7 linked regions of the Homo sapiens genome follow. The protein of the gene in region 6 purifies or fractionates together with the protein of the main gene of each other region. This does not show direct contact. Each region holds a gene or a part of one and is shown on either strand. Other genes may lie near its edges. The genes, in order: ITIH3, FAM91A1, VCAN, ITIH2, ACADL, TNFAIP6 and FOXRED2.

Region 1 (4,248 bases), on a different chromosome or scaffold from region 6:
GCCATATGCGCCCGAAATTCCACCACTGATGCTTTTCCTTTGGCTTTCAGCTTTGAGGTAGGAAAAATGCCCATGTGCCCAGTGAGAAGCCTTACAGAGGCACTTGCTGGTGTTGCTCTTGAGGGCCCAGCACCGAATCTGCATCTGTGGAGTCCATCCCAGCCTCTTCCCCTTGGCCCCAGATGCTTTTGGCCAGAACCATTGAATTCCTCCAGCCTTCCCAGCCAAGGATGGGGGATGCCGTGAGGCAGAACTTTTGTTTTTGACCCCTGTCTGAGACTGCCCCATGGGCGGGTTCCTGCACCCCGCTGCCGTCCCCCCAGGTCTGCAGGGGCGGTTGATTACCTCAAAGTGTTTGACCAGTTGCTTAGGCTGGACCTTGAGGTACATCTCGTACTTGCCCTTGTGCCTCTTCAGCAGCTCCTCGTAGGTTAGCTCGAAGGTGACTTTGCTGCCTGCAGCCACGTTGACCGAGACTGTGAACTTCTCCAACTTCCTCCCAGAGGCCCTGACCAGGGTGCGAGATGGTGACTCCCTCAAAGACTGCAGGAGCCCACCCTTCCTCGGCCCTCGGCCCCAGGCCCAGCCCTTTGGCGAGGGAGATCCCTAACCATTCTGAGCCTCACTTGCCTCAGCCTCAACGTGGGATAATGGCAAAATTATGGGCACATTTTGCTATACCAATAATAATAGCTGTTGTTGTTGTTTGTAGCCCTGAAGGCCCTTGGATCCCAGACATTCTCCCCAAGGCCTGGGAGTCCATACTTACTTGACCAAGCCGGCCGTCTTGCCCTGGGACACAGCCTTTTCATACTGCTTCTTGGCAACTTCCTTCTCCTTGACATTCCCAGGGTAGGTAACACCGTCGATGGTCCTGCAGGGAAAGAGAGTTGGGGGTAGGGAGATCACACTGGGCCAGACCCCCTGTTCCCGAGCCCAGAGCCAGCAGCCATGGTGGTACCCACAAGGTGAAGTTGGTGATGAAGGCCGTCTTGGGCAGCTCCACATCAAAGGAAACCTCCTTGGCCGTGTCTGCACGGTTGACGGCTCTCATGGTGACAACATTGTGAGCAAAACGGGAGGTCACCTTGGAGTTGATTTTGGTACTGTAGACCTCGATGCCATTGGCCACCTTTGGGGAGGTGGGTGGAGAATCAGCCAGACTGGGACACTGGAGAAGCAGGTTTGCAACCCAGCCACCTCCCTTGCAAACCCTTGGAGGCTCTGAGGCCCCTGCCCGGCACGCAACCCTCATCCTCCAGGTCTTCTACACTGGAAGACTTGGTGGCGTCTCCAGTCTCCATGTTCTGGTGGCCACCATTATTCAGATGCTTGTCCTGCCTCCTTAATTCTGCGATCCGTTTACACACCACTGCAGCCAGTGAGAGCTTGCCCTTTCCCGTCCAGTCACCCTGAGCTCCAGCTATGCGTGGGACACTGGCTCTGGAGCATCTGCCCCTGGCTCTTCCTGCTCATCCTCCACACCTCACACTCCCTCAAGCACACAGCCCAGCCCACCTCCTGGGTCTTTAGGTAATTGCCTCATTCTGTCTCCCAAAGAGGAACTGATTTCCTGTGCCAAGGGAAGTCTCCAAACACCCTCTTTCCAATAGGGGTGTTGAATTTTGAGAGGCTCTAGGGAGGTGTTCCAGCCCCCTCCCCCTAGGGATATAAAGATGCTTCGTGAGGGTGTGGCAGGGACCGCTTCACAGAGCCAGGTACCAGCAAGTGCTAAGGAAGTGTCTGCGGAAGGAAGGGATGCCTGTGAGGGGCCCTCTTGGGCTACATCCTGCGAGGTTGGAGGGGTCGTCACTCTGTGGTGCTCTTTCCCAGGAGTCCTGCGCTGTTGGAGGCTGCCAGGGCAGAGGGCCGTAAGCTGTTTGCCAGCTGTGAGGAGTCAGCTGTTATAGCCTACACCTTCAGCAGTTGGGGAACCAGCTCCATCCTGCCCTGCCCCACTCGGTCCCACCCCCTGGTGAAAGTTCTTACCCCTTCCGGGAGGCTCCGTTTCTGAAAAAACAAAAACAAACACAAACACAGGAATCAGGCCAAGGCCAACACCAAGGCCGCATGGCCTGGGAGGCTCTGGGCTGAGACCAGGGGTTCAGTGGTGCCCTGCCCCCCACACACCTGAGTGGCCCCCAGACATAGGACCCTCCAGAGCCACATGTCAGAGTAGGAAAAACTCTGAATAGATGGGGAAACTGAGGTCCAGAGAGGGGCAGGTATCCAGGTTACCAGGAGAGCAGGGCAGGGGGAACTGAACCCAGAGCTCTCTTCACACCCTACATGCCCCACCTCATTCTATCTCCCATTCTGCCTTTCCCTGGCCCCCAGGCCCCTTTAGGCCTCCTTCCAGAGCACCCCTGCCCCCGCCACACCCCGCAGGGCTCAACTGAGCATTTTGTAGAGGTCACACTCGTTTGAGACTTGAACCTTCATTGCCCCTCAGTGAAGTGAGCAGTTCCTGGTGCATTGCTCTTTTGACAGGTGGGGAAGCTGAGGCCCAGGGAGTTTTAAGAGCCTTCCCAGGGTTAGACAACAGGTTAGCATAGGCCTCAGCTGGAGCCCGGTTCTCCCAGTGTCCACACTACTCCCAGCAGCTCAGTGCCCAGCCCTCTGCCTCCTCTTCACTCCACTCAGAGGCCTTGCCCAGCATGATGCCTTCTGCCCATTCCACACCAAGACCCAGATGGCAAAGAGGGGGCAGACTCACCCCAAGCAGCCGAAAGGGGCTTCTCGGGAAGCCAGAGGCTGCCAAGCTGGAGAGCAGAGCCAAGATGAGACAGGGCCACCATGCAAATGCCATCGCTGAATACTCAGGCCTGGCCCACGCTCCTTATATGAGCAAGCCTGGTGTTTTCCAAGCAGGGTCAGTGACCTGCAGCGGGGGTGGGAGGAGTGGAGGCAGGAAGGGCCTCCGGGAAGCTGGGCATGGGTGGAATGACGGGTCCCTCGATGTGTCTGTCTGAAGAAGGCCTGGTGGGTCTTGCCAACAGCGTTGGGGCTTCATTCCTGAGAGACCGGGGGACTCGGAAGAGGCCCGCAGGAAAGCAGAAGCTGTGGGCCAACAAATGGACCCTGGGACTCCCTGGCGTGGATGATGGAGATGGGGTGTGGAGTTGCATTTAGGGCAAAGGGCATCTCAGCATTGTTGCCTCTTATCCCTACCACTGGGACAGCCTCTCTCTGGCCTCCTGGATTGCAGCCCCTCCCTTCTTGAGGCAGCCAGGGCGTGAAACTAGACTGTCACCTTCAGGCTGGGACCTCCACAGCAGAGCCCCTCGCTCACTACCCTTCTATGGCCCCCAAAGCCCCAGGGAAAGGACACACAACGATCCCGGAAGCCCAGCTGTCTCTGTGATCTGACCCCAGCTTGTTTTTCTGAGCTCACTCTCTTGCACCAGCACACCCTCCCCTTCTGCACATGTCACATCTTTCATCTCTCTGCCAGTCCCAGTGCCTCCCCTCCAGGACCCTTCCCTGGCCATCCCCTAGAGGACTATGGGACATCCCTGCTCCAAGCCCCAAGCCCCCTGAGGGCCTGCTTTGTCATGACCTTATGTTGAGGTGGATGTGCTCAGGTCTGCCTGCCCCCTCTGCACCCAGAGCTCCTGGGGGCTGGACCATGTCATGTTTCCCTCTGTGCTTCCAGGGCCCAGCCAGGGACTTGGCTGCCCTCAGCCTTTTGGGGAGTCATTGCCCTAAAAGTCGTAGTGAGGCTGGGCTCCAGCTTCCAGGACAACAGGAGCTTTAGAGGCAGGACCTGGTCTCAGTGGGGGCTGGGACCTCCTGAGCCACCTCAGGACCCTGCCAGCCTAGCCCCATCAGGGCAGCTGTTGCACACCCACCATACCCATGGCTTCTCTGAGCCAAGCTGACCCTGTGACCCTCCCACTGGGCAGCCCACTACTGAATGGAGTCGACAAGGACGGCTGGGTCCAGGACAACTAACTTATGGGGAGTTCAGCGGCCTCAGCTGAAAGCTCTGGTGCTGACTGGGAGATGTGCAGAGAGAGTTGTTGGGAGCAGAGGAACCAAGAAGGCAAAAGGCAGATGCCACGGGGCAGCGGAAGCCCTGAGGAGGGTGTGGTCTAATGGCTGGAAGAGGCAGCAGCCACAGAGCAATGATGGAGAGTTGCCAAATCAGCCAGGCACTATGGCTCTTGCCTGTAATCCCAGCTTTTTGGGAGACTGAAGCTGGAGGATCACCTGGGCCCAGGAGTTCGAGGCTGCAGTGAGCGCTGT
Region 2 (4,308 bases), on a different chromosome or scaffold from region 6:
CTCTATCAAACTGGGATAGTAAGTGGTTACTGTTGTAGGAATATCAGGGTTGTGAGGAATAATCTATTGTCAAGTCAAGGCCTTAATACATGGCGGGCAGGTAATCAATATTTGTTGAATAAATGTCTCACGGTTAGAGTTCAGTTAACCTTAGCTATGCTGATGAGGATCTGTAAACATAAGGTTCAAAGCACTTATCTTTGGGTTATTATAGTTGGATAATAGGAGACCAAAACATCTAAGCAAGGGCAGTGTGTACTTGTCACCTTTATTTCATCAGACATAATGGGGTTTCTGCTAAGCATCAGACTTGCCAGCTGTTGAGGTGTGAGCTAGGTATCTTATAAAAAGTTCTAAGTATACATCTCCCAGTATATAATAAAACATTATTTAAAACCATTGTTAAAAACTGAAAAACAGTTGCAATAACACTGAACTTGTCTCTGGTTGCTGCCAGGAATAATGGTCACGGGTTTGCTAAGGCAGCGTAACAACTTCTGAAAGAAATTATTCCCAAAGACCTTATCACTCAATCTGAAATTAAGACATGCTGGATTTTTGCTTTTAAGTGACTCTGGAGGCATTTGTGTGGAGCAGAATAAAGCAGAAACCGACAGGCTGCATGACAAAGTTGGCAAGGGTATCTCTCTGTCAGCCCTGTAGGCTGCCTCGACCTGTCAGCACCACTGTTTAAAATTTCAGCTCCCTGAATCCCTGCATTGTAAGAATTTGGATCTTCTTGGGAAGTGGAGCCCAATGACGTGCAGCACACCGCGGAAGGGAAGAGGGCTTACCAGACCTTTGCTCTCCCACTGCCCATGCTTCTCGCTCAACCCGGTGCGAGACCTGACTTAGAGATTATTTCTTTCTCCAGGGCCCTGGACCCGTCCCCGCAACCCCCCGCCCCGTCTCACTGGCCCGGGTTCCGGGCTGGCCTGTGGAGAACCCCCGCGAGCGCACCGCACTCCAATGTAAAGCCAGCCACTGCCGGCCCGCTTCCCAGGTCGCTTTTCTCTGAAAACCGACCCCAGTGCCTCCGGCTTTACAATTTGAGTAAACTGGGTCATCAGCAACGGCAACGCAGACCCAAGCGACTATCGCCGTTCATTCAGAGACTGAAACGGGGAGACGAAGCGCGCGGGCGGGGAACGCTCACCCGGGCACCTCCCGGTACCTCGTCGTCGCCCCGCCCCGCAGCCTGTAGAGGGCGTGGCTAGAGGCCAGTCCGTGCCCCGCCCCTCCGGCCGCGCGCCAGCGGGCGGAAGTGACGTGTGCCCAGAGCCATTTCCGGCGGCCCGAAACTAGGAAGAAACTTGGAGCTGTTCAGGCGATCCAGCCTCCAATCGCTGCTGCTCTTGTACTCGGTTGGCCCGGGCGGCGCTGAACTGTCGGGAGCCTAGGCCATGGGGCAGCCTGGGCCTTCTGCAGTGTGAGGCGCGGGGCCTCCCGCGTCGCTCCGCTGACAGGCTGCGGGCGGGCAGGCGGGAGGCGTAGTGTGGGTCGCGGTGGCGGCCCCGGCCGCCGGCCCTGGCCGCGGCATCATGAACATAGACGTGGAGTTCCACATCCGGCACAACTACCCCTGGAACAAGTTGCCGGCCAACGTGAGACAGGTACGGCCGGAACCTGGGACCGGGCCCCTGACGGATTCGGCCCGCCCAGCGGTCACCTGCTTGCCTCGCTCGCGGGGCCCGAGCGGGCTGCTGCCGGCTGACTCCCTTCCTTTACTCCTCCGTGGTCTTGGGGAGACGGACCTTCAGCCCAGGGCGAGGAGGGGACGGCTGTGGGGCCACAGGGCCAGGACGGGGCGATCGCTAAATGGGATGGCATGGTGTCCACAGGACTCGACTGGCGCCTTTGCCCGCAGGATACATTCAGCCAGGCACCTGCGATAGAGATTTTAAACACGGTCCTTGACCTCCGGAATTTCAGGATGGTGGGAAAGGGATGGGAAACAAATGAATACGATACAGGATGATAGCAGCTCATACACACCTGCATTGTAGTATATGTGAGAGCAGAGGGAGGGAGAAATTATCCTGGGAGAGTTGGAAGGATTTTTAAGGCAGGCACTTAAATTGGGCCTTGGAGGACGAATAAGAGTTAAATAAGAGGGAATAAAGATTTTTCCAGGGGGAGGGAAAGTCATTTTACAAAGCTTGGATGAGTGAAAGAACATGTCTCATGAGTAGCAAGTGACTGTATCACCAGAGTTTGGACTGACATGTTTGGAGTTGAAGTTTTTTGAGTGCGCGGGGCTGGTAGCAGATGAGCCTGGAAAAGTGGTCAGGGCCAGATTTTGAAGGTGCTTGTGTGCTTTGTTTTGTTGGACTTTATCCTCCAGACAAGATGGGTTTATCAGAGATGTTTCAACAAGAGTGACATGAGGTTTTTGAAAGTTAATTCTCGATTTTTTTAGTCTGTTTTACTCAATTGTTTAATAGATATTTATTGACCACCTACTAGGTGCTGTGCGTTGCTCTAGGTGCAGGTAATTTGCAACAGTCAACAAGACAAAGACTGCCTTCATGGAGCTTACATTTTACTAAAGAAAGACGTAAACAAATAAATGAATAAATACGTAACATAGCAGATGGTTTTAAGTCTTACGAAAGTAGTGATATGGGCTACAGATAACGCACTGCTGCTCTGGTCATAGATTGACCTTCGCTTCCTCCCATTATACTTGGTCGAGAGTGAAATTCAGTTTTCTGTTGGCACTCGGCAGTGGCATTTTTGGGAAGTTTGGAATGGTGGCGGTGATGGTATATAAGGATTATTTATTTATTTTTATTTTTATTTTCATTTCTTTGAGACAGAGTCTCCTGTTGCCCAGGCTGGAGTGCAGTGGTGTGATCTCCGCTCACTGCAAACTCTGCTTCTTGGGTTCAAGCGATTCTCCTGCCTCAGCCTCCCGAGTAGCTGGTACTACAGGTGCGCGCCACCACGCCCAGCTAATTTTTGTATTTTTAGTAGAGACGGGGTTTCATCATGTTGGCCAGGCTGGTCTCGATATCTTGACCTCATGATCCGCCCGTCTCGGCCTTCCAAAGTGCTGGGATTACAGGCGTGAGCCACAGTGCCCAGCCAGTATGAGGATTGTTATAGTTTAGTTTACTTTGCTCCCTTCCTCCCTTGGGGATTTAGTGCCAGGAAGTGAATATTAAGGTTCTGGTCATGCATCATGTGGCCAAGAAAATGCTTTCACTTTAATATAGCAAAAACCGAGAAAGATAAATTTAAAGAACTTGAATTCTTGGGTGTCAGTGGCTGCCCGTGTGGCATTTATCTTAAACTGGGAGAACAAAGCTCTAAACCTGAAGGAATAAATTTCTTTTGTTAATCTTGAATAAAGGCTTTAAAGGACACTTTTGTACTTTAGGGTTTTGTGGCAAATCCAAAGACACAAGAAGAACAAACAGTTCTTCTTTTCTTTGTTTCCATTTTTTCTCTACTCTTTTCATCAGAATAAATGTAGCATACTGGAAGAAAGATGAGTGATGAGATTATATCCAACATGAATATTTGACTTTAATTAGTATTGGCAAAAGAGTTTCTAAAACGTAGTCATGACTATTTAAAAATAATCATGGGACAGTTAAAATTAGGTCTAAATGTGAAATTAAGTATGTTTTTGTTTTTAAAATCACTTGAAAAACAGTGGCTATTTTAGCTTAGGATAAGGTTGGCCATTTGTAGATGTTGCAAAACATCTGTACAAGTTTACTTCCAAGGACCTTCTCTAGCCTAATCACTGCTTCCCTAGGCCGAGCTCCATCTGAGATTACTACATCAGCCTTCTCTCTGGTCTCTTGCTCTTAGAATAGGACTTTCTCTGCATTCTTCATGCTACTCTGGGGGTGAGGCTTCTGAAATGCAAACCCAACCTTATTACTGCTGGTCTCCTTTATATTGCTTGTATTAATAGCATATTTTGATTCTCACTCTGATACTGCTCCTGGGAGGTTTCCCTGACCACCTAAATCTGTGGTGGTTGCCCCTAGGCTATCTTACCATTGCATTGTATTCCTCACCTGTCATAGAGCTTACCCCGCTATGGTGCATTTTGTGGTTACAATACTGGCTTTGCTTTTGTCCCATGAGCACCTCTCACATACTTGGCTTTTAGTATTTGTGGCTGAGCACCTAAAGCTCAGTCAGTTTAAACTTGGGGAATATTCCTTCTATGGAAAGAATTTGTCTTTTGGCATTATAGATTTTTAGACACTTCGATGTCGTTTCCAGTAAGTTTTGATGGGTTTACCTTGAAAATGACTCATTTTCCAGTTCTGTAAGCTAGGGGCAGGT
Region 3 (3,750 bases), on a different chromosome or scaffold from region 6:
GCTACAGAAGTAACATTTGGTGAAGAGGTAGAAAAAAGTACTTCTGTCACATACACTCCCACTATAGTTCCAAGTTCTGCATCAGCATATGTTTCAGAGGAAGAAGCAGTTACCCTAATAGGAAATCCTTGGCCAGATGACCTGTTGTCTACCAAAGAAAGCTGGGTAGAAGCAACTCCTAGACAAGTTGTAGAGCTCTCAGGGAGTTCTTCGATTCCAATTACAGAAGGCTCTGGAGAAGCAGAAGAAGATGAAGATACAATGTTCACCATGGTAACTGATTTATCACAGAGAAATACTACTGATACACTCATTACTTTAGACACTAGCAGGATAATCACAGAAAGCTTTTTTGAGGTTCCTGCAACCACCATTTATCCAGTTTCTGAACAACCTTCTGCAAAAGTGGTGCCTACCAAGTTTGTAAGTGAAACAGACACTTCTGAGTGGATTTCCAGTACCACTGTTGAGGAAAAGAAAAGGAAGGAGGAGGAGGGAACTACAGGTACGGCTTCTACATTTGAGGTATATTCATCTACACAGAGATCGGATCAATTAATTTTACCCTTTGAATTAGAAAGTCCAAATGTAGCTACATCTAGTGATTCAGGTACCAGGAAAAGTTTTATGTCCTTGACAACACCAACACAGTCTGAAAGGGAAATGACAGATTCTACTCCTGTCTTTACAGAAACAAATACATTAGAAAATTTGGGGGCACAGACCACTGAGCACAGCAGTATCCATCAACCTGGGGTTCAGGAAGGGCTGACCACTCTCCCACGTAGTCCTGCCTCTGTCTTTATGGAGCAGGGCTCTGGAGAAGCTGCTGCCGACCCAGAAACCACCACTGTTTCTTCATTTTCATTAAACGTAGAGTATGCAATTCAAGCCGAAAAGGAAGTAGCTGGCACTTTGTCTCCGCATGTGGAAACTACATTCTCCACTGAGCCAACAGGACTGGTTTTGAGTACAGTAATGGACAGAGTAGTTGCTGAAAATATAACCCAAACATCCAGGGAAATAGTGATTTCAGAGCGATTAGGAGAACCAAATTATGGGGCAGAAATAAGGGGCTTTTCCACAGGTTTTCCTTTGGAGGAAGATTTCAGTGGTGACTTTAGAGAATACTCAACAGTGTCTCATCCCATAGCAAAAGAAGAAACGGTAATGATGGAAGGCTCTGGAGATGCAGCATTTAGGGACACCCAGACTTCACCATCTACAGTACCTACTTCAGTTCACATCAGTCACATATCTGACTCAGAAGGACCCAGTAGCACCATGGTCAGCACTTCAGCCTTCCCCTGGGAAGAGTTTACATCCTCAGCTGAGGGCTCAGGTGAGCAACTGGTCACAGTCAGCAGCTCTGTTGTTCCAGTGCTTCCCAGTGCTGTGCAAAAGTTTTCTGGTACAGCTTCCTCCATTATCGACGAAGGATTGGGAGAAGTGGGTACTGTCAATGAAATTGATAGAAGATCCACCATTTTACCAACAGCAGAAGTGGAAGGTACGAAAGCTCCAGTAGAGAAGGAGGAAGTAAAGGTCAGTGGCACAGTTTCAACAAACTTTCCCCAAACTATAGAGCCAGCCAAATTATGGTCTAGGCAAGAAGTCAACCCTGTAAGACAAGAAATTGAAAGTGAAACAACATCAGAGGAACAAATTCAAGAAGAAAAGTCATTTGAATCCCCTCAAAACTCTCCTGCAACAGAACAAACAATCTTTGATTCACAGACATTTACTGAAACTGAACTCAAAACCACAGATTATTCTGTACTAACAACAAAGAAAACTTACAGTGATGATAAAGAAATGAAGGAGGAAGACACTTCTTTAGTTAACATGTCTACTCCAGATCCAGATGCAAATGGCTTGGAATCTTACACAACTCTCCCTGAAGCTACTGAAAAGTCACATTTTTTCTTAGCTACTGCATTAGTAACTGAATCTATACCAGCTGAACATGTAGTCACAGATTCACCAATCAAAAAGGAAGAAAGTACAAAACATTTTCCGAAAGGCATGAGACCAACAATTCAAGAGTCAGATACTGAGCTCTTATTCTCTGGACTGGGATCAGGAGAAGAAGTTTTACCTACTCTACCAACAGAGTCAGTGAATTTTACTGAAGTGGAACAAATCAATAACACATTATATCCCCACACTTCTCAAGTGGAAAGTACCTCAAGTGACAAAATTGAAGACTTTAACAGAATGGAAAATGTGGCAAAAGAAGTTGGACCACTCGTATCTCAAACAGACATCTTTGAAGGTAGTGGGTCAGTAACCAGCACAACATTAATAGAAATTTTAAGTGACACTGGAGCAGAAGGACCCACGGTGGCACCTCTCCCTTTCTCCACGGACATCGGACATCCTCAAAATCAGACTGTCAGGTGGGCAGAAGAAATCCAGACTAGTAGACCACAAACCATAACTGAACAAGACTCTAACAAGAATTCTTCAACAGCAGAAATTAACGAAACAACAACCTCATCTACTGATTTTCTGGCTAGAGCTTATGGTTTTGAAATGGCCAAAGAATTTGTTACATCAGCACCAAAACCATCTGACTTGTATTATGAACCTTCTGGAGAAGGATCTGGAGAAGTGGATATTGTTGATTCATTTCACACTTCTGCAACTACTCAGGCAACCAGACAAGAAAGCAGCACCACATTTGTTTCTGATGGGTCCCTGGAAAAACATCCTGAGGTGCCAAGCGCTAAAGCTGTTACTGCTGATGGATTCCCAACAGTTTCAGTGATGCTGCCTCTTCATTCAGAGCAGAACAAAAGCTCCCCTGATCCAACTAGCACACTGTCAAATACAGTGTCATATGAGAGGTCCACAGACGGTAGTTTCCAAGACCGTTTCAGGGAATTCGAGGATTCCACCTTAAAACCTAACAGAAAAAAACCCACTGAAAATATTATCATAGACCTGGACAAAGAGGACAAGGATTTAATATTGACAATTACAGAGAGTACCATCCTTGAAATTCTACCTGAGCTGACATCGGATAAAAATACTATCATAGATATTGATCATACTAAACCTGTGTATGAAGACATTCTTGGAATGCAAACAGATATAGATACAGAGGTACCATCAGAACCACATGACAGTAATGATGAAAGTAATGATGACAGCACTCAAGTTCAAGAGATCTATGAGGCAGCTGTCAACCTTTCTTTAACTGAGGAAACATTTGAGGGCTCTGCTGATGTTCTGGCTAGCTACACTCAGGCAACACATGATGAATCAATGACTTATGAAGATAGAAGCCAACTAGATCACATGGGCTTTCACTTCACAACTGGGATCCCTGCTCCTAGCACAGAAACAGAATTAGACGTTTTACTTCCCACGGCAACATCCCTGCCAATTCCTCGTAAGTCTGCCACAGTTATTCCAGAGATTGAAGGAATAAAAGCTGAAGCAAAAGCCCTGGATGACATGTTTGAATCAAGCACTTTGTCTGATGGTCAAGCTATTGCAGACCAAAGTGAAATAATACCAACATTGGGCCAATTTGAAAGGACTCAGGAGGAGTATGAAGACAAAAAACATGCTGGTCCTTCTTTTCAGCCAGAATTCTCTTCAGGAGCTGAGGAGGCATTAGTAGACCATACTCCCTATCTAAGTATTGCTACTACCCACCTTATGGATCAGAGTGTAACAGAGGTGCCTGATGTGATGGAAGGATCCAATCCCCCATATTACACTGATACAACATTAGCAGTT
Region 4 (3,750 bases), on a different chromosome or scaffold from region 6:
TTGAAGTGTTCATAGATGAAATGATGTGCCATCTGAGCTTGGCTTCTTTTTTTTTTGAGATGGAGTCTCGCTCTGTCGCCCAGGCTGGAGTGCAGTGGCGTGATCTCGGCTCACTGCAAGCTCCGCCTCCCGGGTTCACACCATTCTCCTGCCTCAGCCTCCTGAGTAGCTGGGACTACAGGCACCCGCCACCATGCCTGGCTAATTTTCGTATTTTTAGTAGAGACGGAGTTTCACCGTGTTAGCCAGGATGGTCTCGATCTCTTGACCTCGTGATCTGCCCGCCTCGGCCTCCCAAAGTGTTGGGATTACAGGCGTGAGCCACCGTGCCTGGCCTTGAACTTGGCTTCTTAACAACTAAGGTGGAAAGCATGAGAGTACAGACAAATTAAGATTGGCTGAGTATTCATAATGGTGTAGCTCAGTGATGGTTTCATGGACATCTCATATTATTCCCTCTATTTTCTGTGTGTTTGAAATTTTTCGTAATAAAAGAAGGTTAAACTACTCCAATACTTTCCAAACAGTTAATACCAGTTATCCACTTGGAGCCTTCATGTATCAAAGTTAAATATTCTCTGTTCCTCTAAGTGATTGGAATGATTTCTATGTCCAAATATCAAGGTGGCCAACCCAGAGTATGTTCCAGGTGGTCAATGTCCCTCTTAAGTTGCCAAGAACACAGCAAAGTACTGTGCATAAAGTCTGGCTATTTTTTTTTTATGAAGACATTAGGTTGAATTACTTCTCATCCACTTTTGTCTTTCATACACCAAGGTAATCAGTGATCATTGTGGATAAATAGTAAAGGGTTCAACCACCATGTACTTTGGCTGCCGAAAGTGGCAGTCATGTGAACTCTAACCAAATAGGCAGAAAAAGGCATTGTGTCACTTTAATTGGTATCCTTTGAATTGGCTTTAAAATGTATCACTTTTTTTGTCTGCCTTTTCTAAAAAGCAAAGGGAGAAGGAAAGGCTTTTCTGTACTGGTATTATATGACCCCATGTCTAGAAATGACATTGAAAACTATTTTAATAAATTCCTATTTTTAAACCACACAATCAGAATTTACTCAAAAGATCTCTTATTTCTGTTTTCCTTCTTTTTTTTTTTTCTTTTTTACTTTAAGTTCTGGGATACGTGTGCAGAATGTATAGGTTTGTTACATAGGTACACATGTGCCATGGTGGTTTGCTGCACCTATCATCCCATCATCTAGGTTTTAAGCCCCACATGCGTTAGCTGTTTGTCCTAATGCTCTCCCTCCCCTTGCCCCCTACCGCCCGACAGGACACGGTGTGTAATATTCCCCTCCCTGTGTCCATGTGTTCTCATTGTTCAACTCCCACTTATGAGTGAGAACATACAGTGTTTGATTTTCTGTTCCTGTGTTAGTTTGCTGAGGAAGATGGCTTACAGCTTCAACCATGTCCCTGCAAAGGACATGATCTTATTCCTTTTTATGGCTGCATACTATTCCGTCCTTCATTCTGTTCTTTCTTTACTATCTCATTACATAGAAGATTTGAAGTACAAAGGACAGAATCGTGAAACATGCATTTACTTTTATCTCCCTCTGCTCTGAGCTGAATCTATAAGACCAGAGAAGATACCTGCTTAATTATCACAACTTAAAATGAGCTGTGTAGACCTATGTACTAGCCAAAATATCCCTTTTACCTTTTTATCAAGATCTTGAATATTCTATGGGAGATGATTTCCTTTGTCCTAAAGACCCCTTGGCCTTTGAGACTTAGTTCTGATTCGATAGAAGCATGATGGCCTTGACCAGCAGTGTGACCTTGGCAAGAGTCACCTGTCTCCTGGGGTCTGATGTCTCTCATCTAAAGGGGCAAACCCACAAGTGTGCCTCAACACACGTGCTGTTGGCATTTGGGGCAGGAAAATTCTTCAGTGGAGCTGTCCCTCATATTGCAGGATGACTAACATTCGTGGTGTCCTCCCACAAATGCCAGCAGCACTTCCAAGTCATCTCAACAACCCAAACTTCACACATTTCCAAATTGCTCCTTGGGAAAGACACTGCCCATTTGAGTACTGGAAGTTCCCATGTACTTCCAAAATTCTGGATTCTACCACTCTGACCAACCATTACTTGGTAAGGATTAGGTGCTAGCCAGCTAAAGGTAAGGTGTATAGAGATGAGATGCAAATAGAAGACAGAGGTCCCCAAGGGAGATGGTTTCCAGATAAACACCACCTTGGCAGGGGACCCACCAGCACCTTCCCCCTTTTTCTTTATTCTTTTCCACCCTTGCAGAGGAGCATAATATTCTGTCTTCATCAGCTCCGGCTGCTATGACTAAGTACCATAAAATGGGTAGATTATAAACAACAGAAATTTAAAATTCATAGTTCTGAAGGCCGGGAAGTCCGAGATCAAGATGCCCAAGGATTTCGTGTCTGGTGAGGGCCCATTTCCTGGTTCAGTCAAGATGGAAAGAGATGAGAGAGCTCTTCGAAGTCTGTTTTTTATGACAGCACTAAATGCTATTCATGAGGAGAGAGCCCTCTCCAAGGCCCCACCTCGTAATGTCATCGTCCTAGGAAGTAAGGTTCAACATGCACATTTGCGGGGAACATAAACATTCGGTCCATTGCATACCCCACAGCGATGCCAAATTCTTAGCTCACAGAATGACCTGATGAACCAGTAATGAGATAATTCGGAATTTATCAGTCACCTCCCCTAATCACATTTGTCATTCAAAGGGGATACCCAAAGAGAACCATCCTTAATCTAAAGGATGAAATTCAAAGATGAGGAAAAATCTATAAACAAACAACAGTACATGAGGGAAAGGTTTTAGGATGGGAGCCTACCAAACCCCTCTCAAGCCACACTATCCAATCAATAAAGGAAGTCCTGTCCATAAACTATTTGAATGCCTCCCTTCTTATTTCTTATAGACACAAAATGATCATTGCCCTCATTCATTAAATTAGCCTTGTTGGGTTGTTTGCTCGCTCTTGTTTGTTTTGCTAAGATTACTATTCTGGGCCAGGCGCGGTGGCTCACACCTGTAATCCCAGCACTTTGGGAGGCCAAGCCAGGTGGATCATGAGGTCAGGAGATCGAGACCATCCTGGCCAACATGGCGAAACCCAATCTCTACTAAAAATACAAAAAATTAGCCTGGCCTGGTGGCAGACGCCTATAATCCCAGCTACTCAGGGGGCTGAAGCAGGAGAATTGCTTGAACCCAGGAGGTGGAGGTTGCACTGAACTGAGATTGCACCATTGCACTCCAGCCTGGGTGACAGAGCAAGACTCCATCTCGAGGGGAAAAAAAAAAAAGATTACTATTCTGACCAACTGGTTACCTTCTGTCATTTTCTAGGACTGTGGACGGCAAGACATTTAGGAGCTCTATTAAGGAGAAAACTGTGGGCCGAGCTCTTTATGCACAGGCCAGAGCAAAAGGCAAGACGGCTGGCTTGGTGAGGTAAGGCCTGAGTGAGCAAGGCTTGCCCTTGCCTCTCAATGACGGTTTCCTCTCCTACTTCCTTCCCACAGCAGCAAAGCAGCCTCTGGAAAGGCACAGCACCTGAGCCAATGGCAACCTCCTCAGAGCCAGATGTTAGAATTAGGCACTGCAGTTTCTATTCGCCTAAAGGTCCCTCTTCAACCAATGGGTTTTGGGTGATCCCACGCTGGTTGTGCTTACATCACTGTCTTGCAGGTAGATGGATGTTCTGTAAATAAACACTGCTTTTTCTAAAGAG
Region 5 (4,417 bases), about 59 Mb from region 6:
CATCAAGGTATTCTTCAAACCAAATATAAAAATATATATATAATTTCTAATCACTCACTTTTTATACATTTATAAACAGGCAGATACAGATACAGATACAGACACAGGCAGTTATTTGGGTTAAAGAAGCTGGCATTTTCATGGGGTTTAGAAAGGACCGTGTAGTCCATGACATTTACTACCAGGTATCAGAGGAAAAGCATAAGCAGTTCCTTTTCTTGAACATTTGCCTTCTAATTGAATAGGCATTGGAATACACAAAGTAGAGGGTTTTTTTAAAGGATTTGTTCTTTCTTTTATCTACTACAAAATATGAGTATTTCTCAATGATGACAATAATAATTACCATTTATCGAATGTTTATTGTATTCCTGTCTTTGTGCCAACCACCTGACCTCCGTTATCTGAAAAATCTTTCCAACAACCCTATGACATAGATATTGTTATTCTTCATTTACAGGTGAGTAAATGGAGGTTTACATTTGTATGGAACATGTTCTGCTACTTGAGATAATGGGAATAGGAGCCTAGGAGGGCTAAAAGCAAGGAGCCAGCAAGTCTAGACACATTCCAGAGGACATTATGTCAGTCATGCAAGCCCTGCCTCAGCTTTCTTCCCAACCCTCAGCCTTTTTTCCCAACAGTATATAAATAATGTGGTGTTCCTTTCAATACAGGTGTCTCTAATGCTAGTTTGTTCCATTCTTGGTGAAGTTAATTTGAATCACATTTGGTTAGCATGTTTATCAGTTTTTTTCTACTGAGTTTCCTTTTGTGAAGTAAGAACAAATATGTTTATGAATGTAGAGTTAGCTGTGCTAAAATTAAATGAAAAGTCAAGCAAACTACCCAGATAGTTTAAGCCAATCACCCAGGATTTCATGAACCCTTTGAGCCATTTATGTTTCCCTTGAGGGATATTTCACATCTTTTACCTGAGAGTTCTACAGGGCATGCTTTTATTAGTTGAAATGTCACTGAGGGCGAGAGTAATTGTTCAACGGATGTACTTGAACTTGGACATTTAAGAATTAACAGAACGGGCTGGGCGCAGTGGCTCACGCCTGTAATCCCAGCACTTTGGGAGGCCGAGGCGGGAGGATCACGAGGTCAGGAGACCGAGACCTTTCTGGCTAACACGGTGAAATCCTGTCTCTACTAAATCCTGTGTCGGATTAATTCGTTCTACTTGCTATTACCAATAAATAGCATGGGCTCCCAGAGCTATGCCTGGCTAACTCTATCACCTTCAAGGGTTTGCTCAAACTATTCAGCCTACTTTAAGTAAATCAATTTCCAAGGTTACAAAATAAACTTCACGTACATTTTTATGGTTAGGTATTTGCGCGTATTTGGGGGCTCCATAGCTTTCATCCGTTACTCAAAGCGCTTCAGGACGCTAAAAAGGCTCAGAGCTGCTTCGATAAACAAGAAAGAATGCTGCAAGCAAAGGCAGCAGTTTCGCTGTAAAATCCTATTGCTGACAGCCAAGACGGGCGTATTCCCTCGCGACCAGCCTGTGGCGTGGTTGGGGCTCCGGAAGGGCGCGCGCGAGCGCTTTTTTGGGAGGACACCACAGGTGGACGCCTCAGCTGATCGTCCTCCCTCCCGGGGACCCTGCCCCGAGTCGCCGAGTAGCCGCAGAGTCGCCTCCGTCGCCCCGCCGCCCCTGTGTTTCGGACATGGCCGCACGCCTTCTCCGAGGGTCCCTACGCGTCCTGGGCGGCCACCGTGCGCCGCGCCAGCTGCCCGCCGCGCGGTGAGTGCCAGCCGGGACTTCCGCGGCTGCAGGCCGGGAGGCTGTGGGGTGGGGCAGCGAGTCACTCCTGTCGCTGGCTTGAAGCAGGGCGGTGCGCGCGCGGCTGGGAGTGCTCCCCAACTCCGGCGCCGGGCTAGAGCTGGCCTCCTTTCCTGGATCCCGCGGACTGGGTGCAACCAGCATCTGGGCGGAGGAAAAAGGGGTGTCAGCCGTGCCGCCCCGAGAACAGACCGCCGAGCCCACGTCGGGGAAAGCCGAAAGATTTCTCCAGAAGTTCATTCCGGAGCCCCAATCCAACCCGTCTAGTTCAGCGGCCTGCAGTGGGACCCGGGAGCCTGCGTTTTGGGAGGAGGTGGTCACCCCCTGGGCCCGGCTGCAGGAGCGCGGGCTGCGATCTGTGTCCCAGTTCGAGCTGTGAACCCGGCGTTCCCCACGGCTTAGACTCGCCGCGCGGTAGTGAACTTGGGACCCGGACTCAGTGCCCGGGCTGCGGCGCGGACCAGAATTGTCCAGGACAAACTGGGCTAGAAATGACCTGGCGAGGGTTCCATCAAACAAGGAAATTAGCTTTAGATATATCAACAAATCTAACTAAATACAGAGGATTAATGAAGACAGAGTCTAAGTAGTTCAGTGACTACTAAGGTGGTGTTTATAATATGATCAAAAGTTTCAGATACTGTCTGATGCATAAAATCTATTCACTGGGTAAACAAATTGGAAGCATGGAGAATTCATTATTTAATAAGGGTGAAGGAACTGGCAAATTTGCGAATGACAGCATTGGTGTAAGCTACTCTAATTTTATTTGAGAGCTATGAAACAAAATGCCTACTTTTCCTGGGGAGATTTGGGAAGACGTCACTGAGAAGGTGACTTTTCTTTAGGATACATACTTAACTCTTCCTTGGAACATTATAAGACAGTGATCCTCAAACTTTTTTTTTTTTTTTTTTTTTTTTGAGACAGAGTCTCACTCTGTCGCCCAGGCTGGAGTGCAGTGGCGCGATCTTGGCTCACTGCTGCAACCTCCGCCTCCCGTGTTCAAGCAATTCTCCTGCCTCAGCTTTCCTGAGTAGCTGGGACTACAGGCACGCACCACCACACCCGGCTGATCTTTTTAGTAGAGACGGGGGTTTCACCATATTGACCAGGCTGGGCTCAAACTCCTGACCTCGTGATCTGCCCGCCTCGGTCTCCCAAAGTGCTGCCTCAAAACTTTTTGATAACAGGGCTCCCTTATGCTCTTAAACAGGACCTCAAAGGACTTTTGTTTATGTAGGTTATATCTATCCGTCTGTCGTTATCGAAAGGTATCTACATAACTGAGAAACTTTACAGATATTTAGTTTATTTAAAAGTTACAATAAGAAGCTCATTACATGTTAACATAAATAACAGTTTTTATGAAAAATAACTTTTCCTAAACAGAAAAAAAGTGAAAAGAGTGACATTGTTTTACATTTTTACAACTCCCTTAATGTCTGGCATAATAGAAGATAACCAGATAACTATATCTGCTTCTGTTTTATCCATTGGCGTAAGTTAGTTTGATTGAAGCATGGCAAGAAAATCTACCCTCAAATAGAGAACACTGGAAAAAGGGAGACCTGAGAGACCCTCTGAATGGGCTGGGGGGCTACAGTTTTGTTGTAACAGCTTTTTTACCTTTAATGTGCAAAGGAATCACCTGGGAATCTTGTTAAAATACAGCTTCTGATTCAGTGGGTCTGGGATGGGGCCTGAGATTGTGTATTTATAACCAGCTTCTAGGTGTGTGGAAGGTGCTGGTGGAGATTGTCTCCCTTTTAAAATGTAGGAGACTTTAAAAAAACAATAATAGCCTAGCCAATAAGATTAGTTGCAGTTTATTGCCTTAGAGAAAAAAATGCCAATTTTTCCATTACAGATTTCTTCATCTTTAGACTGAGAAATACATGTTGCAATAAACTTGCTGCCAAGTGTTTTGATTTTCTTCCCTCTGCATATTCTCTCTTGACCACCTTTGACTGACCTGAAAGTCTTTATTCGTTTGGCATTTCTTTTGCTTTCCTATGTCTTTATATATTTTACTTAAAAATATTGCAGAGATTTCCTTAACACAGTACAGGCTATTCAATTTTAAGATCCAGTAAGACTCGATTTTAAATTCTGGCTCTATTGTTTACTCATTATGTTGACAAATGATTCGGTGTCTTACAGCCCCAGTTTCCTAATCTCAGCATATTTTTTTCCTGAGGGAAACTCTCAAGTATGGAAAATCTATATGGACAAATACGTGCTTTATAATTTTATCTCTACTAGCAAGAAAAAGGAGCCGATCATTTCCATTATAGGGATAAAGTAGATGTTAGTTTATTTGATGCAACAGGACAATGGTCAAGGTCCCCTGCATGTCCTGGTCCCCTGTTATCTCTTCTTCCTAGAATCTCTGGCCTCATCTACTCTTCTCAGCCCACTCTGGCTACAATTGCCTCCTTGCTCTTTCTAGAACACATCAGACACCATTCAGACATACAGCCTTTGCTCTAGTTGTTCTTTTGTCCTAAAATTCTTTTATTCTAGAGGTATGCCTGGCTAACTCTATCACCTTCAAGGGTTTGCTCAAATCTCACCTTTCTGGTTTAACCTACCCTGACTGCAGCACTTTTTTTTCTT
Region 6 (3,228 bases):
ATTCTCTCACAATAGAAGAGCAAAAAAGTATCATTAATAATCTAAGTTGAATTTTTGGTAGTGTTTTTGAACACATTTTTAAATGTCTATTAGCCCTTTGAACACCTATGAATTGCCTATGAATTTATATTTCTTGCATATTCTTTGGCGCTTTTGTCTTTCTCTTTTTTATTTCTTTGTATATTAGAGATATTAACCCTATTTTCTCTCAGTCTGTCTCGTGCAAAATTTTTTTTTTATATTTAGGCAAATCTTCCAAATATGAGAAAATAGCAGTCTGAGAATCAGAGCATGAACTCGGAAACCAGACTGCCTGTGCTCAAACCTGACTCTGCCCATTTAGTTCTGTGGCTTTGGGCAAGCTACTTAGTAGTCACTCTGTGCCTCAGTTTCTTATCTGTAAAATGAATATTTAAAAAGTATCCCCCTCACCTCGCAGTGTTGTTGTGGGGGTTAAATGAGTTAATAGATAAAAGCAAGCATTAGGAATGTATATACTCTGCTTTTGTTTATATATATTTGCAGCTCATGCCTGTGACCCCAACATTTTGGGAAGCTGGGGTAGAAGGATCACTTGAGCACAGGAGCTTGAGACCAGCCTGGGCAACATAGTGAGATCCTGTCTCCAAAAACAAACAAAAAGAAGGCCTTTGCCTCCTTTTTGAAAAAGATATAAATATTCCTATATTTTATGTTATATAATAAAGTTTTTCCTTTTTATTTAGCACATTTTGGTCTTTATATTACGGTAAAATGTGTTTAGGTACTCTGTGTAAAGTAGGAATCTAGCTTCATTTCTAATAAATGTGAAACTTGTTGCTCTGACATCATTTAGTAAATAACTCATCCACCCATCGCTGGTTTGACCTGCCCTGCCATTCTCCTGTAATTCTGTGGATGTTCCTTCTACAAAGAGTATCTTCTTTTTTTTTTTTTTGAGACGGAGTTTTGCTCTTGTTGCCCAGGCTGGAGTGCAATGGCAGAATCTTGGCTCACTGCAACCTCCGCCTCCCGGGTTCAAGGATTCTCCTGCCTCAGCCTCCCGAGGAGCTGGGATTACAGGCACACGCCACCAAGCCCGGCTGATTTTTTGTATTTTTAATAGAGACGGGGATTCACCATGTTGGTCAGGCTGGTATGGAACTCTCGACCTCAGGTGATCTGCCCACCTCGACCTCCCAAAGTGCTGGGATTACAGGCGTGACCCACCAGGCCCAGCCCAAGAGTACCTTTTAAATACAAGAGAGAGGCCAACTCGGTGGCTCACGCCTGTAATCCCAACACTTGGGAAGGCCGAGGTGCGTGGACCACCTGAGGTCGGGAGTTTGAGACCAGCCTGGCCAACATGGTGAAACCCCGTCTCTAGTAAAAATACAAAAAAATCTGCCAGGTGTGGTGGTGCGTGCCTTTAATCCCAGCTACTCGGGAGGCTGAGGCAGGAGAATCGCTTGAGCCCGGGAGGCGGAGGTTGCGGTGAGCCGAGATCGCGCCACAGCACTCCAGCCTGGGCAACAGAGTGAGTGAGACTCCATCTCAAAAATAAATAAATAAATACAATAGACAAAATTTCCTGTAGGATAGATTGGAGGACCAAAGGAAAAAATACAAACGTCTCTCACCCTGTTCCATGCGGCAATGAAACCACAGACTCTTCAGCTTGAGAATCGACCTCTGAATTCTGGGAATCTTGTTCATGAATTCTTATATTCTCCTATGAGAATGAAGAGTCTTTGAATTGTCAGCCAAATCAAAGGAGAGTAACATCTTTGTTCTTTTGCCTCCTTCCCCGCAACAGGAAATGTCATGACCTTGAAGTTTCTAAGTGATGCTTCAGTGACAGCTGGAGGTTTCCAAATCAAATATGTTGCAATGGATCCTGTATCCAAATCCAGTCAAGGAAAAAATACAAGTACTACTTCTACTGGAAATAAAAACTTTTTAGCTGGAAGATTTAGCCACTTATAAAAAAAAAAAAAAGGATGATCAAAACACACAGTGTTTATGTTGGAATCTTTTGGAACTCCTTTGATCTCACTGTTATTATTAACATTTATTTATTATTTTTCTAAATGTGAAAGCAATACATAATTTAGGGAAAATTGGAAAATATAGGAAACTTTAAACGAGAAAATGAAACCTCTCATAATCCCACTGCATAGAAATAACAAGCGTTAACATTTTCATATTTTTTTCTTTCAGTCATTTTTCTATTTGTGGTATATGTATATATGTACCTATATGTATTTGCATTTGAAATTTTGGAATCCTGCTCTATGTACAGTTTTGTATTATACTTTTTAAATCTTGAACTTTATAAACATTTTCTGAAATCATTGATTATTCTACAAAAACATGATTTTAAACAGCTGTAAAATATTCTATGATATGAATGTTTTATGCATTATTTAAGCCTGTCTCTATTGTTGGAATTTCAGGTCATTTTCATAAATATTGTTGCAATAAATATCCTTGAACACACATATTTGTGCACCTCTCTAATTATTTAAGACAAGGACCTGGAAATAGAATTACTGAATCAAAGGTTAATTAAAATAAAATTTTCTGTTTTGATAGGCAAAAATGAGGCCTCACTGTAGTTTGAATTTGCATTTCTTTATTCATGAGATTGATGGTTATATAATTTTTTGTTAATTTTTTTTGTGAATTATTTTTCCATGCCTTTTTTTCACTATTTTTAAAAACTGATATAATCTTCTCTATTGATTTGTTAGAAATTATTATATATGTCCATGTTTGTCATATATGCTGTAATTTAATTTTTAGTTTATATTTTGTCTTTTACTTTAATGGTTCTTTAAAATATATCAAATGTTAAAATTTATTTGCAATTATACTTGATTTTGCTGAGGTCTCTTTTCTCATATTTATGTTTAGGACTGTCAAAAGACAAAATGACAACAAATTTAGTTTAAAGATCTTAATTGGCTTTTATTTGCAATTCTAGAATCAGGCACCTCATTTTTAAAATAGAATGAGTGTTCTGATGAGCTGAGCAGAGGACGTTGGTTTTATTGATATAAAAGGGCTGAGGAGAGCAGAAACAGAAAACAAAAAGCAGACTGGTTGTTTCAAAGTTACTTTTCTTATAAAGGTTAAAGCAGAGGCAACTTCCTTATCATGCCAGCTAAAACTGGTCTGTTTGAGGGTTTGGCTATTATCTCTCTGTGGCTCTTGGTTTCTTGGAAGGTCAGATAAACAACTAATTTC
Region 7 (3,750 bases), on a different chromosome or scaffold from region 6:
ACCCTGTCTCTACTAAAAATACAAAAATTAGCCAGGTGTGGTGGCGTGCGCCTGCAGTCCCAGCTACTCGGGAGGCTGAGGCAGGAGAATCACTTGAACCCAGGAGGTGGAGGTTGCGGTGAGCTGAGATCGCACCATTGCACTCCAGCCTGGGCAACAAGAGCAAAACTCCATCTCAAAAAAAAAAAAAAAAATGTAATTGGATTATATCAGTTCTTTTTCAAAACTCTCAGTACCAAGGGTATAAATTTTCTGCCAACTTGAGAATGTTTACAAAGAAAATACTAAAATATCTTTTAAAAACATAATTCTATTTATTGCACTAAAATAATCCCCAACCAAAAATTGATACTTGTGATTTTAGGAGTAAATGGGAAATAAAAAGGAAGTGAGAGAGATGAATTCACGCATGTTGGGTGACTTCAGTGGGCTGAGCACTGAACACACGACCCTGGCAGGGCCGCCAGCACCCCGAAAGGTGGGTGTGAAATCTCCATTTTCCTCAAGAGTGTAAAACTCTGAGGCTCAGAGTTTTGGTGATTTTCTCACCATTATGGGAATTAAACTCCAAGGCCCAGGAGCTTTCCTGAAAGACACTTTCTACAAAGGTCTTCTCTTCTTTCATAGAAAGCAAACTGGTGCCCTTTCTGTGGAGAGGAGTCTAAAATGTTAGATGTGGCCAGGCACGGTGGGTCACACCTGTCATCCCAGCACTTTGGTAGACTGAGGTGGGTGGATCACCTGAGGGCAGGAGTTCGAGACCAGCCTGGCCAGTATGGTGAAATCCCACCTCTACTTAAAATACAAAATTAGCCGGGCATGGTGGCGGGCGCCTGTAATCCCAACTACTCGGGATGCTGAGGCAAGAGAATCACTTGAACCTTGGAGGTGGAGGTTGCAGTGAGCCAAGCCCACACCATTGCACTCCAGCCTGGGCAAAAAGAGTGAAACTCTGTCTCAAAAATAAATAAATAAATAAAAATTAGATGTTCCTGCTCCTGTGGTTAACCTTCTGAGAAGGACAGGGTGTTGGTTGAAATTCACTCAGTGAGGCATACAGTATTCAGTTAGGTGGTTAGGTGAGTCTATTTGAAAGAATGGAGTCATAATCTTACAGCTGAGCTTTAAAAAATTAGTATTATTATTTTTTTTGAGACAGCGTCTCTTCCTGTTTCCCATGCTGGAGTACAATGGCGCCATCTCGGCTCACTGCAGCCTCGACTTCCCAGACTCAAGCCATCCTCCCACCTCAGCCTTCTGAGTGGCTGGGACTTCAGGCGTGCACCACCACACCCAGCTAATTTTGTTGTTTTTATTTTTGTGTGGTAGAGACAAGTTTTCGCCATGTTGCCCAGGCTGGTCTCAAACTCCCAAGCTCAAGCGATCCACCCACCTCAGCCTCCCAAAGTGTTGGGATTACAGGCATGAGCCACCATGCCTAGCCTGAGCATCAAAAATGTGAAAATGTAGGGAATTACGGGGAGTAATCTTTATATTCTGCCACTCAAAGACATTCAATATTTATATTTCTTTTTTCTTTTTAAAGACAGTAAGGCAGGCTGGGCGTAGTGGCTCATGCCTATAATCCCAGCATTTTGGGAGGCTGAGGCTGGCAGATCAGCTTAGGTCAGAAGTTCGAGACCAGCCTGACCAACATGGTGAAACCCCATCTCTACTAAAAATACAAAAATTAGCCAGGCTTGTAATCCCTACTACTTGGGAGGCTGAGGCAGGAGAATCACTTCAATCCAGGAAGCAGAGGTTGCAGTGAGCCAAGATCGTGCCACTGCGCTCCAGCCTGGGCATCAGAGTGAGACTCTGTCTCAAAAATCATAATACAAATGAAGACGGTAAGGTGGACTTTATTCCAGGTTAGAGGACTACAATAATAAGTGTAGGGACCACTGCAGAGGGGTCTTACAGTACGGGCAAAGGATTGGACTCAATTCTGGGAGTCGGTTCCTCCTGGAACCCAGGAGGCGGAGGTCGCGGTGAGCCGAGATCGCACCACTGCACTCCAGCCTGGGCAACAGAGCGAGACCCTGTCTCAAAAAAATAAAATAAAAAATATTTAAAAAAAGAACTTAGAGACAGATGGATTTAGGCTGTGAAAGAGAGGGCGAAATCAAAGATTTCTGTAGGCGCGTCTCTGATGGAAACAGAGCTGTGAAGGGGGGGAGGTTTCTGGGGAAGGCTCCGTGTTGGACTTGACGTTCCTTGTGTGAGGTGGGGCCGGTGGGACTCCCACGTGCAGATGGCCTGAAGCAGGGGCAGATGGACTCTGGCCTGGAGACCAACTCCAGCTGTGCTCACTCCTTTGCCTGTTGTCTTGGCCGCTTTTACACTAGGGGCAGAATTGAGCAGCATCACTGAGTCGTGTATGACCCACAAAGCAGAGAATATGGATTGTCTGGCCCTTTCCAGAAAATACCTGCTGGCCCTGCTCTAAAGGCAGCTGCCATCTCCTCCCCTCATGTGTTCACCACCTAGGCGTTTGCGCTGGGCCATGGAGACCAGTGTGTATGGCGTTCTCAGGGGTCAATGAGGCCTGGGCATCCCTCCCAGTGACCAGAGATAAAATGGTAAGTGCAGCGTGCCGTTCCTCCCTCTGGCTGTTCCAGTGCGTGCTGTTCACCGGCTCCTGGAGCACCGCCACCACAGCGTCACCTGGCCCGCCACTGAGCTCCCCATCACACAGCTGACCAGCTCCATCGTGCGGCGCGTGAATGAGGCTTCTGGGCTCTACCAGATGTTCGGTGTGCTGGCCGATGTCATCCTGTTGAAGGAGTGAGTAGCCCGTCCCCACCCTACTCCCCTCGGCCCAGCTTTCCCGACGTGCTGCATAGCGCTTCTCTTCCTATTCCAGGTGTGAGGTGCCCAGTTCTTTCCTAAGATGAAGGCTGCTGTGGGGAACATGCCTGTTCTGGGGAAAAACAATGACATTAACTCTACAGACAGTCCTGTGAGTGGCCACGGGCACATTAGTGAGCCTCTCTGAGCCCTTCTTCCTCATCTGCAAAATGGGGATAATTGTGCCTACCTTGCAGCAGTAAAGGAAGGAGTAAAGGTCACTTGTGGAAAGTGTTTGGCATCACGTGGATGAGCAGTAGTCAGAGGCAGCCACGTGGATCTCAGAGCTCCCTCAGGCCAGGGCCTTGCCGGCCACCATCGTCAGAGTCAATTTAGTGATAAGCAGCAGATCCCAGAGGATGGACAGTTCCTGAGAAGGAAACGGTGCAGAGCACAGAGGGGTGAGGGGCGGGGGGAGACAGGTGGCAGGGAGAAGCAAGGGAGCAACCTTCAGTCAGAGGGAACAGCCCGATCCAAAGGCAGGGCGTGCTATAGCACACCAAGTTCAGGGACATGCAGGTAGTGCAGCCGCTTTCTGCACAAAACCCTCGCATCACCCTCCATGCCCCTGCCCCTCTTTTTTTTTTCTTGAGACAGTCTCGCTCTGTCATCCAGGCTGGAGTGCAGTGGTGCGATCTCTGCTCGCTGCAACATCTGCCTCCTGGGTTCAAGCACTTCTCCTGCCTCAGCCTCCTAAGTAGCTGGGATTACAGGCACCCACCACCATGCCTGGCTAATTTTTTTTTTTGACTCAGAGTCTCACTATGTCTTGCCCAGGCTGGAGTGCAGTGGTGCGATCTTGGCTCACTGCAGCCCACCTCCCAGGTTCAAGCGATTCTCGTGTCTCAGCCTCCCGAGTAGCTGGGATTACAGGCCCATGCCACCACACCTGGCTAATTT

The links.
Region 1: the proteins of TNFAIP6 (region 6) and ITIH3 purify together in Homo sapiens (affinity purification with mass spectrometry; one large-scale study listed by BioGRID and IntAct). This does not show direct contact.
Region 2: the proteins of TNFAIP6 (region 6) and FAM91A1 purify together in Homo sapiens (affinity purification with mass spectrometry; one large-scale study listed by BioGRID and IntAct). This does not show direct contact.
Region 3: the proteins of TNFAIP6 (region 6) and VCAN purify together in Homo sapiens (affinity purification with mass spectrometry; one large-scale study listed by BioGRID and IntAct). This does not show direct contact.
Region 4: the proteins of TNFAIP6 (region 6) and ITIH2 purify together in Homo sapiens (affinity purification with mass spectrometry; one large-scale study listed by BioGRID and IntAct). This does not show direct contact.
Region 5: the proteins of TNFAIP6 (region 6) and ACADL purify together in Homo sapiens (affinity purification with mass spectrometry; one large-scale study listed by BioGRID and IntAct). This does not show direct contact.
Region 7: the proteins of TNFAIP6 (region 6) and FOXRED2 purify together in Homo sapiens (affinity purification with mass spectrometry; one large-scale study listed by BioGRID and IntAct). This does not show direct contact.

The regions. Positions count from the first base shown.
Region 1 is NC_000003.12:52,793,365-52,797,612, reverse strand, and holds the start of ITIH3 (inter-alpha-trypsin inhibitor heavy chain H3 isoform 4 preproprotein), read right to left. Parts: upstream 2,818-4,248; 5' UTR 2,810-2,817; coding exon 2,717-2,809; intron 2,011-2,716; coding exon 1,990-2,010; intron 1,133-1,989; coding exon 966-1,132; intron 875-965; coding exon 770-874; intron 509-769; coding exon 346-508; intron 1-345. UniProt on the Homo sapiens protein: May act as a carrier of hyaluronan in serum or as a binding protein between hyaluronan and other matrix protein, including those on cell surfaces in tissues to regulate the localization, synthesis and degradation of hyaluronan which are essential to cells undergoing biological processes.
Region 2 is NC_000008.11:123,767,162-123,771,469, forward strand, and holds the start of FAM91A1 (protein FAM91A1), read left to right. Parts: upstream 1-1,277; 5' UTR 1,278-1,541; coding exon 1,542-1,613; intron 1,614-4,308. UniProt on the Homo sapiens protein: As component of the WDR11 complex acts together with TBC1D23 to facilitate the golgin-mediated capture of vesicles generated using AP-1.
Region 3 is NC_000005.10:83,537,696-83,541,445, forward strand, and holds part of VCAN (versican core protein isoform 1 precursor), read left to right. Parts: coding exon 1-3,750. UniProt on the Homo sapiens protein: May play a role in intercellular signaling and in connecting cells with the extracellular matrix. May take part in the regulation of cell motility, growth and differentiation. Binds hyaluronic acid.
Region 4 is NC_000010.11:7,709,816-7,713,565, forward strand, and holds part of ITIH2 (inter-alpha-trypsin inhibitor heavy chain H2 precursor), read left to right. Parts: intron 1-3,365; coding exon 3,366-3,470; intron 3,471-3,750. UniProt on the Homo sapiens protein: May act as a carrier of hyaluronan in serum or as a binding protein between hyaluronan and other matrix protein, including those on cell surfaces in tissues to regulate the localization, synthesis and degradation of hyaluronan which are essential to cells undergoing biological processes.
Region 5 is NC_000002.12:210,222,529-210,226,945, reverse strand, and holds the start of ACADL (long-chain specific acyl-CoA dehydrogenase, mitochondrial precursor), read left to right. Parts: upstream 1-1,498; 5' UTR 1,499-1,682; coding exon 1,683-1,759; exon of another isoform or gene 1,760-2,533; coding exon of another isoform or gene 2,534-2,547; exon of another isoform or gene 2,548-2,631; intron 2,632-4,417. UniProt on the Homo sapiens protein: Long-chain specific acyl-CoA dehydrogenase is one of the acyl-CoA dehydrogenases that catalyze the first step of mitochondrial fatty acid beta-oxidation, an aerobic process breaking down fatty acids into acetyl-CoA and allowing the production of energy from fats.
Region 6 is NC_000002.12:151,377,569-151,380,796, forward strand, and holds the end of TNFAIP6 (tumor necrosis factor-inducible gene 6 protein precursor), read left to right. Parts: intron 1-1,619; exon of another isoform or gene 1,620-1,795; coding exon 1,796-1,965; 3' UTR 1,966-2,478; downstream 2,479-3,228. UniProt on the Homo sapiens protein: Major regulator of extracellular matrix organization during tissue remodeling. Catalyzes the transfer of a heavy chain (HC) from inter-alpha-inhibitor (I-alpha-I) complex to hyaluronan.
Region 7 is NC_000022.11:36,497,028-36,500,777, reverse strand, and holds part of FOXRED2 (FAD-dependent oxidoreductase domain-containing protein 2 isoform 1 precursor), read left to right. Parts: intron 1-2,621; coding exon 2,622-2,787; exon of another isoform or gene 2,788-2,923; intron 2,924-3,040; exon of another isoform or gene 3,041-3,220; intron 3,221-3,750.